2 separate regions of the Homo sapiens genome follow, and region 2 is linked to region 1. Evidence: fine-mapped expression QTL. A gene starts in region 1. The other region holds a variant in brackets. All regions are shown on one strand. Distances are between the middles of the regions. Region 1 holds the start of ZFP28 (ZFP28 zinc finger protein). Region 2 overlaps ZNF583 (zinc finger protein 583).

Region 1 (5,245 bases):
TGTGCTTCTGTTGCTTCTCTGCTAAATATGAACAAGGACGCATATAGCCCCATATAATAGGAAAATAGGATATAGCAGTCATTTGAGGATAAGTGACTGCTACAATAAGATAAAAAAGGTATTGTCAACTCTGTCAATAAAGAAGATAGATTTTATTGCCTTCTCAAGTAACAGCTTCCCATGTAGGTAGGTAGCAGGTCAAGGCAAGAAGACAGCTTTGCTCCATGATGTCATCAAAGGACCTGGTTCCTTCTATGCCATTTCTCCATCAACTCAGGATGCTGTCTTTATCCACATAGGTGATGCCTCTACATTCCAGAACATGAAAGTATTCTGACATATCTTCCTTGGACATGACATATTTTTCTATGTATTGCTGGACTTTGTTTATTGTCACTTTAGGTAGGATTTTAATGTGTATGTTGTCCCTGAAGATTGGAATTCTTTCCCTACTTAAATTCTTTCCCTACTGTCCTTGTCCAGTTTTGGTATCAAGGGTGTCTAGTTTTAAATTCTCCAGTATAGTTTTATAGGATAAGGATTATTTATTGCTTTGGTATTCATGGAAAAGCCTGAGAACTTATTTAATGATTTTCCATTTCTTCTTGAGTCAGTTTTGGTACTTATAATTTTCTCTATGGTAAGCCCCTGCATATGTTTTAAATATATTGAGATAAGGTGATCACAGTATTTGCAAAATTCTAAAAATTTCTGTGATTATGTCCACTTTTTCATTTCTAATACCATTTCTTTGATTGTTTATTTCTCTTTTTTTCTGCTAAGCCATCTTTAGCATAACTTTCATCCTCATGATGCCAAGGTGGCTGTTTGCAGCGGACCCTATCCTTGTTGGACTGAACAAAGGATGACAAACATGGGAATAAAGACAAAGACAAAAGAGTATATTTGGAAGAAGAGGTCTGGGGGCTCCTTGCTTCCAGTGAACACAGGCCCTGAGCCTTTACAGCCCTTCGTATTTATTAGAGTGAATAGGGAGAAGGGGGGTGGTTGTCGGTCAGTAGCTTGATTTACAGCAGGCTTGCAAGACTGCATTCGTCAACCAATAGGCTCTAGATGTCCCATTAGATAACCTCAAGGAGCATGACACCAGGGAGTGATTGCCTTCAGCAAACCTTCTGGTGGCTGGAGCAGAAGCGACTTTGCCCACATTCTGCATTCATGATAAACAGTTTGCTGTTTGATCATATAGCCTCCAGTGGAATGTTGAGTTGGCCACGATCCCTTTGCCAGCTCTCTACAGCTGTTCTACCTGTTGACATCCTGTGTCATACCCAAGCAGGAAGAAGGTTGTGTGAGATGACAAAAGGCCAGAGTTACATGCCAGCTGTGTCTCTTTCCACACATCCACCAAACCCCCAGCAAATGTGTACTTAAAATTCATTGGTTACAGAGCCACTACTCCTTACAAGGAGACTGGGGAGGTGAGTATTATAAGCTGGGCAGATGGCCACTTGAAGAGCATCAATGTTCTGCTGTGGAAGGAGTGCAAAATAGACACCAGAGAGACCATTAGCAGTGTCTGCCACAGCTATTACATGGCTAGGTCCACCTGACTGAAACTAAGCCTTTTCTATGAGACTGAAGTGCTTTGAGAGAAATGCTGACCTTGTCCTTTCTGCAGCTTGCGGCTTTCAGTCACCCTTGGATTCAGAGATAGAAGTCATCTTAATTCCATCACTGAGGCCAGGAGACCTGAAAGAAATCAATTCAAGAGTAAGGAGACCAGGCGTGCAGTGTGACTGGGCGTGCAGAGGTCAGTGCATCTGTGATGACTGGTGTAACAGCATCACTGCCTGTGAGCCAGCAAGGCCCTTGGCTCCCAGGATGAAGCTCTCCAGTTCTGATAAGGCCCCTGGGGGAGAGACCGGTCCTAAACATGTTCAAGAATAAATCCATCAGCTAACTTCAGACCGTGATTCACACAGGAAGGGAACTTTAAGAGGTCGCCAGGGCTGGTATTTTTGAGACGTTAGGCAGCCCTCTCTGAGGCGATGACAAGTGAATGGCATAAAGGAGCCAGCCCAGACGAAAATTTGGGGTTAGACTATTTCGACCCAGGACGTGCAAATACATAGGTTACAAAATGGAAAATGGTATTTTGGAGGATGGGAGGCCCGTGTAGCCAGAGATAATGGGAGAAGGTGAGGGGGCACCCAAAACAATCCCACAAGCTCTCTACATCCCCCTTCCTAGCCCACACACATCACCCATCAGAGTGATCCTCCGGACTCCGGAGGCCCCCAAGATTGCCTTTCCCTTCCCGGTCGGCAGTGACGCTCCCGCAAGGAGCTGACGCCCAGGCCCTTAGCACCTGTCACAGCCAAGCACCCTTTTACTCCGGCCCTGCGGTCCCACCCCTCGCCGCAAGCCCCGCCTCACCCGGTCTGCCGCTGCGCCTGCGCGACTCCCAGAAGCCTTTGGGGGGTGGGTGTGTAGTCAGAGCGGCCTCTGCTTCCGGCCACACCCAGGCCCAGCGTTGGCCACCACTTATGCGGCGGCTGCGGTCCAGGGACAAGTGAGAGCGACCCGCAGAGGGCAGGACGGACGGGCGTTGCATAGGCCCGGGGCCAAACCGTATCTTGCAACCTGAGCTCCGAGGGCCGCCGCATCCGTCCCTGCTTGGGACTACGCTTCCCAGCGGGCATTGCGCCGAGGCCACGCCCGGTTCCGGCGGCGCTGCCTGCGCACTGGAAGTGGGAAGCGCCGGGCTTCTCTAGGCTGAGGGGCGGGGCGGGGCGGGGCGGGGCGGGGCGGGGCGGGGCGGGGCGGGGCGGGGCGGGGCGGGGCAGCGGGGAGGGGTGGGGAGGGGCGGGGCGCGGCCGGGGGCGGGGCGGCTCCGCGGCGCGGCCCAGTGGATGCCGGGCCATGGGGGAGCGCGCGCGGGGCTGTTCGCTGGGCGTGGCGGGCGGGTGTGGCCAGGGGTGTGGGTCTGTGAGGGACCGGTCGGAAGGGCGTCGCGCGGCCTCGGGTGACATGCGGGGGGCGGCGAGCGCGAGTGTCCGCGAGCCGACGCCGCTCCCGGGTAGAGGCGCCCCCCGCACAAAGCCCCGGGCGGGCCGAGGCCCGACTGTAGGGACTCCAGCCACCTTGGCCCTCCCTGCCCGGGGAAGGCCGCGCTCAAGGAATGGCCTCGCATCCAAAGGCCAGCGAGGAGCGGCCCCTACGGGGCCTGGGCACAGAGGTGAGAGTGACAGGTGTTTGGGGCCGAGCGGACAGGGACGAATTCATCTCGGGATGAGATCTGGGAGGGGGTTGGGCTCTCGGGGACCAGTTGCTGGAGAACTGTGCCCCTGGTCTTTGAAGCTGGTGGAGTGGGAGAATCTGAAGATTTGGAAGCTCAACTGATTCAGAGCAGCAAGCCGCGGTAAAAGGGTGTTGACTTTCCCAGGGTGACTCTAACTAGACGCTTTTCCTGTTTTCGTGCTCCCAGGGAGGAAAAAAACCTATCTCCACGTTGTGGCAGTCCCTAGGCAGGGTAATGATCTGATCCCACCTTTTCATGCAGGAAGGGACGTTTCTAGGCTGGTGATTTGGGACTGTGGTGTAGACCTGGTCTCTAGCTACTCCTTTCTCTTTCAGCTCTGCCTTCCAGGGACACTGCTCTTCCCCAGGAGAGAAACAAGAAGCTGGAGGCTGTGGGGACAGGAATTGAACCTAAAGCCATGTCCCAGGTGAGTTGGCATTTCATCTCTTGTCTCTGAAATGCAGTCTTGCTTTTCGGGACTTAATGTTGCTTATTTTCTTGAAAGTTTTCAGTTTAAGAGACCTGTTTGGGCGCGGGTTTCTATTTCTTCACGTTCTAGTGAAGTGATGGGCTACGGGGAAAAGTTTAAACTGCCCGGGGCCTCGATGCCTGCTTCTTCTTCATCCCAATCAGCCTTCATTCTTGATTGATGAAATGATTCAGCCTCTCCCTTGTACCGCTTTTCTCAGAGGGACTCTGATGGAGGAATTGTGCCCCTTGAGGAACACGGCAGACTCTTCTGCTATACATGGTTTGTTTGGTGACCACTTTGTGCCAGCCACTGAGCAAACCAATAGCTAAGCCCTAGTCCCTGCTCTGGAGCTCACAGCCTGTTGACCCAATGTCAAGGAAACAAGCAAGATTCTAGAATGTGATCATCCTTGGGCCAAGTATTATGAGCGAGGACTACAAGGCGCTCCTGGCTTCCAGCCTCCTGTAGCGGAAGGGTAGGCCTATTTACCAAGGAGGTGATTTTTGAGCCTTGCCTTGAAGGGAGAGAAGATGTTTGGGAGGCACAGTAAAGAAAGACAACATTTTAGGGAGAGGAGGCGCAATATGAAAGGCTTTTCCACTTGATTTTGTGGCTTTAAAACATGCCAGTAAATAGTTGTGTTTGTTTCGGTTGGCTTCTCCTATAAATATCATAGCTAGCTCATTAATAGATGAACCATTTCACTTCCACTGAGGCCTCAAAAAATATATGTACAGATGAACCAGCTTCCAGTTGTCCTACCCAAACTGCTCTTGAGTGGGTTACTGTGATCTTCACATTACCAGATGCAGTGCTCAATTCTTAGTCTTTTTTGACTATCATTGGTATTTGAAATAGCTCAGAGGCTGGCAAACTTGTGCTGGATGAGGCCACAGCAGAAAATATGTTAGGCTTTGAAAGTCCTGCTGCATCTACTCCTTTCTGCTCTTATAGAGCTAAAGTAGCCAAAGACAATATGTAAATGAATGGATGGGCTGTGTTCCAGTAAAACTTCAGTTACAAAACAGGTGGCTACCTATCCCTCAAATAGCTCATCCCTGTCCTTCAATAGGCCCCCTTTTTTCCCTTGGCTACTGGGATCTCACACTCATCTGACTTTCATCTTCCTGACTGCTCAGTTTTTGCCACAGTTCTTACCTCCGTGACTTGAACAGAGTGTGCCTCAGCACTCTGCTCATGGCCCTTTCTTTTTTTGTCTGCATGCTGTCTCCTGGGGATAGTAGCCTGTTCCTTGTCTGTACAACCTACCCACATGGTGGCTCCTCCCAGATTCACATTGTGAGCCCAAACCTCTCCTCTGAGCCGCCGGCCTGTGTATCCTGCTCCACTCCTCTGCCTGAGTGTCTGATGGGTAACTCAAGACAGCCTGTCCAGACCCGAAGTCCTGAGAGTCTCCCATAAACCAGCTCCTCCCACAGTTTGAGTCTTAGTCAGTGGCCGTTTCATCCTCTCAGTTACTCAGTCCGGAAGCCTTGTCATGATTGGCT
Region 2 (5,245 bases), 120 kb before region 1:
ATCTATCCTACTCTCCACTCCCAGTTCCAAACAAACATGAATCTGATCTTTATTTTTTATTAATTTGCATCTAAAGTAAATGGAATCATTCAGTATGTATTTTGTTATGTCTGGCTTATTTCACTCAGGATAATCATCTTGAAATTTATCTGTATTGTTGCATGTATGAATGCAACATTTCATTTATCCATTCACCTGGTGATGGACATTTGGGTTGTTTCCAGTTTGGGGCTATTATAAATAAAGTTGCTATGCAGCTGTCATGTACAGGACTTTGTGTGAACATATATTTTTATTTTTGGGGGGTAAATACTTAAGATGGAAGAACTGAGTTATATGATAGGTATATGTTTAACTCTGTTAGAAACTGTCAGTTTTCTGAAGGAATTATACCATTCTTCTAGCAGTGTATGAGACTTCCAGTTAATCCACATTCTCACCAAATCTTGGTATCGTCAGTAGTATTTTTAATTTTAGTCATTCTAAAGGTTGTATTGTGGTTTTAATATGCATTTCTGGAATGACTAATAATGTTGAGCCTCTTTTCATATGTTTACTGGCCATGCATATAACTTTTATGAAAACTTTGTTCAAACATTTTTCCCATGTTTTATTGGATTGTTTATCTTATGATTTGTAAGAGTTCTGTATATAGTCTTAAAACAAGTTCTTTATCATTTATATGTATTGGCTTATATGTATGCCAATTATGGCTTGCCTTTTTGTTTTTCTGCTGCCACCTCTGTTGGAGGCAAAGTTTGCAGTTTTTGTAAAATCCAATTTATTAATTTGTCTTGGTTGGTGCTTCTTATATCTAAGAAATTCTTGCTACTCCCAGGTCACAGAGATATTTTTCTAGGAGTTTTAAGGTTTTAGCATTTATATTTAGCTCTGTGAATGATTTTGAGCTAATTTATGTGTCTTGTGTGAGGTAAAGGTTGAGGTTCATTTTTTTTTCCATATGGATATACAGTTGCCCCAAGACCCTTTGTCAGGAAAGACTTTCCCTTCCTAATTCTATCACCTATCACCTTGCTACTTTTCCTGATCATTACTTGACCACATATGTGTGGGTATGGTTCTGGAATGTCTTCTGTTCCATTGATCTATATGTCTATTGTCTCACCAGTTCCATACTGCCTTGATTACTGTAGCTTTGTAGTAAGTTTTGATACCAGATAGAGCAATTTGTAAAATTGCCTTGACTGTTTTAGATCATTTGCATTTCATATAAATTTTAGAATGAAGTTGAGAATTTCTGCTCAAAAAACTTAGATTTTTGTTGGGATTACATTGATTCTGTATGTCAATTGAAAAAAACTGACCTCTTAACATTGAGTCTTCTAATATAAGTATGGTTTATTAAGCCATTTATTAGTCTTTAAAAATGTCTTGAAGTTGGGTGTAATGGTGTGCGCTGGTAATCTCAGCTACTTGGGGGGCTGATTTGGAAGGATTGCTTGAGTCCAGAACTTGGAGACTAGCCTGGACAACATAGCAAGACTCTGTCTGAAAAAGAAAAAGGAAAAATAATAAAATTTATCTTAAGAATATTTTGCAGTATCCAGTGTAGTGGTACTCTGTTAAATTTTTTTTCCTAAGTCTGTAATAGTTTTTTGAGTGCTATAATAAATAGAATTTTTTTTAACAATTCAGTTTTCTAATAGTTTGCCACTAGTAGGCAGAAATGTAAATTGATTTTTATATTAGCTTTACATCTTATGACCTCGCTAGATTCATTTAATGGTTGCCCTCACAGTTATTTTGTAGGTCCATGAGGATTTTTTGGATGGACAATCATGCTATCTACAAATACAGTTTTTTTTTCCTTCTGATCCTTATACCTTATTTTTCTTGATATATTGCAATGGCTAGGACCTCCTATATAATGTGTAATTGAAGGGGTAAGAGGAAATGTACTTGTGCTGTTTCAATCTTAAGGGAAAACGTATTCTGTCTTTTACTATTAAGTCAGTGTAAGCTGTCAGTTTTTCTTAGATGTCCTTGATCAGTTTGAAAACGTTACTTTCTATTCCTGGTTTGCTGATAATTTTTATAATAAATGGATCAGATACTATTTCTACATCTGTTGAAATGATCATGTGATTTTTTTTCTCTTTAACCTTTTAATATGGTGAATTACATTGATTGATTTTCAAATGTGAAACCAATCTTGCATTTTTGGGATAAACTCTACTTGGTCAAGATCATGCTGTTAATATTTTCCTAGATTTCATTTGCACAGTTTTATTAAAGATTTTGCCTTATGTACATGTGCTACATTGGTCTGCAGGTTTACTTTTTTTTTTTTTTTTTTTGAGATGGAGTCTTGCTCTGTCACCAGGCTGGAGTGCAGTGGCTCAATCTCAGCTCACTGCAACCTCCACCTCCCGGGTTCAAGCGATTCTCCTGCCTCAGCCTCCCGAGTAGCTAGGACTACAGGCATGCGCCACCATGCCCAGCTAATTTTTGTATTTTTTAGTAGAGATGG[G/A]GTTTCATGATGTTGGCCAGGATGGTCTCGATTCTTGTCCTCGTGATCCACCTGCCTCGGCCTCCCAAAGTGCTGGGATTACAGGCGTGAGCCACCACGCCCAGCCTGCGGGTTTACTTTCTTATAATTTTTTTATCTGGTTTTGGTATCAAGATAATACTGGCCTTATGAAAACAAGTTGGAAAGTGTTTATCTTTCTCTATTTTCTGACAGTTTGAATAAAATGGTATTATTTCTTCTTTAAATATTTGATAGAATTCACCAATGAAGACATCTGGGCCTGAAGTATTTTTTACATAACAGCTTTAATGGATATAGGGTTAATCAGGTTATCTGATTTTTGTTGAATCAGCTTTGGTAGGCTGTGTCTTTCAAGAGATTTCTGTGTTTCATCTGAGTTTTTCAATTTATTAATGTTTTTAAAAAACAGCTGTAGGCTATGTAATGATAACTCCTCTGGTGTTGCTGATATCTGTTCTTTTTTTCTTGATAACTGATGTTTTAAAAGAACCTACTTTTGTTTTATTTCCTCTGTTGTTGTTTTTCTATATTGTTAATTTTCTTTCTTAACTTTTTCTTCTACTTTCCTTAAGTTTACTTTGGTCTTTTCCTCACTTCTTGAGGTGACATCTTAGATTATTGATTTTTAGACTTTTAGTTGTTTTCTAACATAAGCATTTGAAAACTGTAGATTTTTCCTTTAAGTACCATTTTAGCTGTATCCCACAGATTTTGATATGTTGTACTGTCATTATCAACCAAGATATTTTCTAATTTCTCTTGTATACTCTGACCCATGATTTATATAGAAATGTGTTTAGTTCTCAGATGTTTGGAGTTGACTAGGTATTATTGATTTAAAAATCAATAACCTCTAACCTCTGTTGAGGTTAGAGAGCATACTCATCTTGGTTTCGGTACTTTGGGATTTATGGAGACTTGGTTTATGCCCCAGAATATAGTCTATCTTATTTACTGAACACATTGTGTGCACTCGAATACATGTTGTACAAGTGTTTGGTGTAGTGTTGTATAAATATAAATTAGATCAAAGTAGTTAACCCTGTTGAGATCCTCTTTGTTACTATTTTTTCCTAGTTTTGTCAGTTTCTGAGCAAAGCATGTGTTAGTTGCCTATTATGACTATAGGATTACCTATTTCTTACACTTTCAATTTTTGTTTTATGTATTTTGAGGCGTTATATTAGGTGCACAGACATTAAAGATTATTTCTTTCTGATGAATTGATCCTTTTATTACTATACGTCTCTATCTTTGGTAATACTCAGTTTTAAAGTCTATTTTATCTGACGTGAATATAGTTAATCTAGCCTTATGCTTACTGTTTGCATGTTACATCTTTCTTTATCTGTATTATTAATGTATTCTTATATGTAATGTGAGGTTTCTATAAACAGCATATAATTGTGTCTTTCATTTTGTTGATTCCTATAAGTTCTGCCTTTTAACTGAATAAGGAGTTCATTAATATTTAATTATTTATATAATTTGAGTTGAGTCTACTATTGTTTTCTCTTTAATATTTCTCATTAAAAAATATTTGCTCATCTCTATCTTCTTTTGGGATGTTTGAATATTTTTTATAATTCCATTTTATTTTATCTGCTGGCTTGTTGTACCTTTTTATATTATGCTTCCAGTGGGTGCTATAGTGCAATGATGCTCAAAATGTCGTCTTGAGACCAGCAGCACCACCTGTGAATTTATTAGAAACGAAGATTCTCAGCCCTCAACCTCCACTAACTCAATCAAAAACTCTGTGTGTGGGGTATAGCAATCTGTAGTTTAGCAAGTTTTATCTAATTCTGATACACTCTAAAATGTAAGAATCATGCCTGTAACGATTATAATATCTATCCTTAACTTTTCAGTCTAATGAGAATTAGTGTTTTTACTTCCTTATTATAGTTTTATCAACTTAATTCTGGGTTTAATTAGATCATTGCTCCTTGGCAGTCATTTCATATTTCTTTTTTGACCCATCAGTCTTCAGAATTTAATTTTCATGTTGACTTTTTATAGGGCATTCATGGGTGTGATTTGCAACTGTTTAGAGAGGAAAGTGGAATTTGGAAGGGCACTGAGGCAGCACAGCGGAATTAGCAGCCTCAATTTAAGTATGTTGCCTTCAGATTCTTTTCCTTCCAAATATCATTATCCACTGTAATATTTAAGTTTAGTGGTAATATTCCATTTGGTTTCAGACATTTACCCCATTCATGCAAGCATGTCATTCTAATAAGAGGATGAATTAGTGTGGTGTTTTATGTCTTATTGATTCAGTATTTATTCCAAAGATACTAAGCACCTTCTATCTGTCCAGGCTATTTTAGGCAATGGGTGTTCAAGGGTGAGAAAAAAACTTCCTGCACATGAATGTTTACATTCTAATAAGAATAGAGAGTAAGTTAACATGTAATATGATATTAAATAAGTTAAGTGCTATGAAGTGCAAAGCAGGAGGAAAGAGAAACATAAGAGTGTGGAATACTTCATATTGGATGTTCGGCAAAGGCCATACTGAAGAGGTAATATGTGAACAGAACCTCAAGTGAAGAAGTGCAATGAGAGAAGGGATCAAGCAGATATCTGTGGAAAGTGCTTTTCAGGCAGAGAAACAGCAAGTCTGGTGCTCCTAAAGTGGAAATAAAGTGAATTCCCATATGACTGAAGTGGAGTAAGCAAGCAAGGGAGTAGTAGAAGATAAGATCAGAGAACACCAGGTCATGTAGA

Evidence for each region. PIP is the estimated chance that this variant, and not a neighbour inherited with it, causes the effect.
Region 2: its variant is fine-mapped to the expression of ZFP28 in lung (TOPMed, PIP above 0.99). The same link has a PIP of 0.9 or more in nucleus accumbens.

The regions. Positions count from the first base shown.
Region 1 is chr19:56,536,025-56,541,269 of GRCh38, forward strand. ZFP28 (ZFP28 zinc finger protein) reads left to right here and starts at 2,924. Exons shown (of 8, transcript NM_020828.2): 1 at 2,924-3,202; 2 at 3,601-3,692. The coding sequence starts at 2,995. It overlaps ZFP28-DT (ZFP28 divergent transcript), which reads right to left and starts at 2,710. Exons shown (of 3, transcript NR_183967.1): 1 at 2,401-2,710; 2 at 1,627-1,713; 3 at 132-308.
Region 2 is chr19:56,416,897-56,422,141 of GRCh38, forward strand. All of the region lies in intron 4 of ZNF583 (zinc finger protein 583), which reads left to right. Among named protein-coding and RNA genes, the nearest start is that of ZNF583, 15 kb to the left of the region's middle. The variant G/A (reference allele first, on the strand shown) is at 2,492.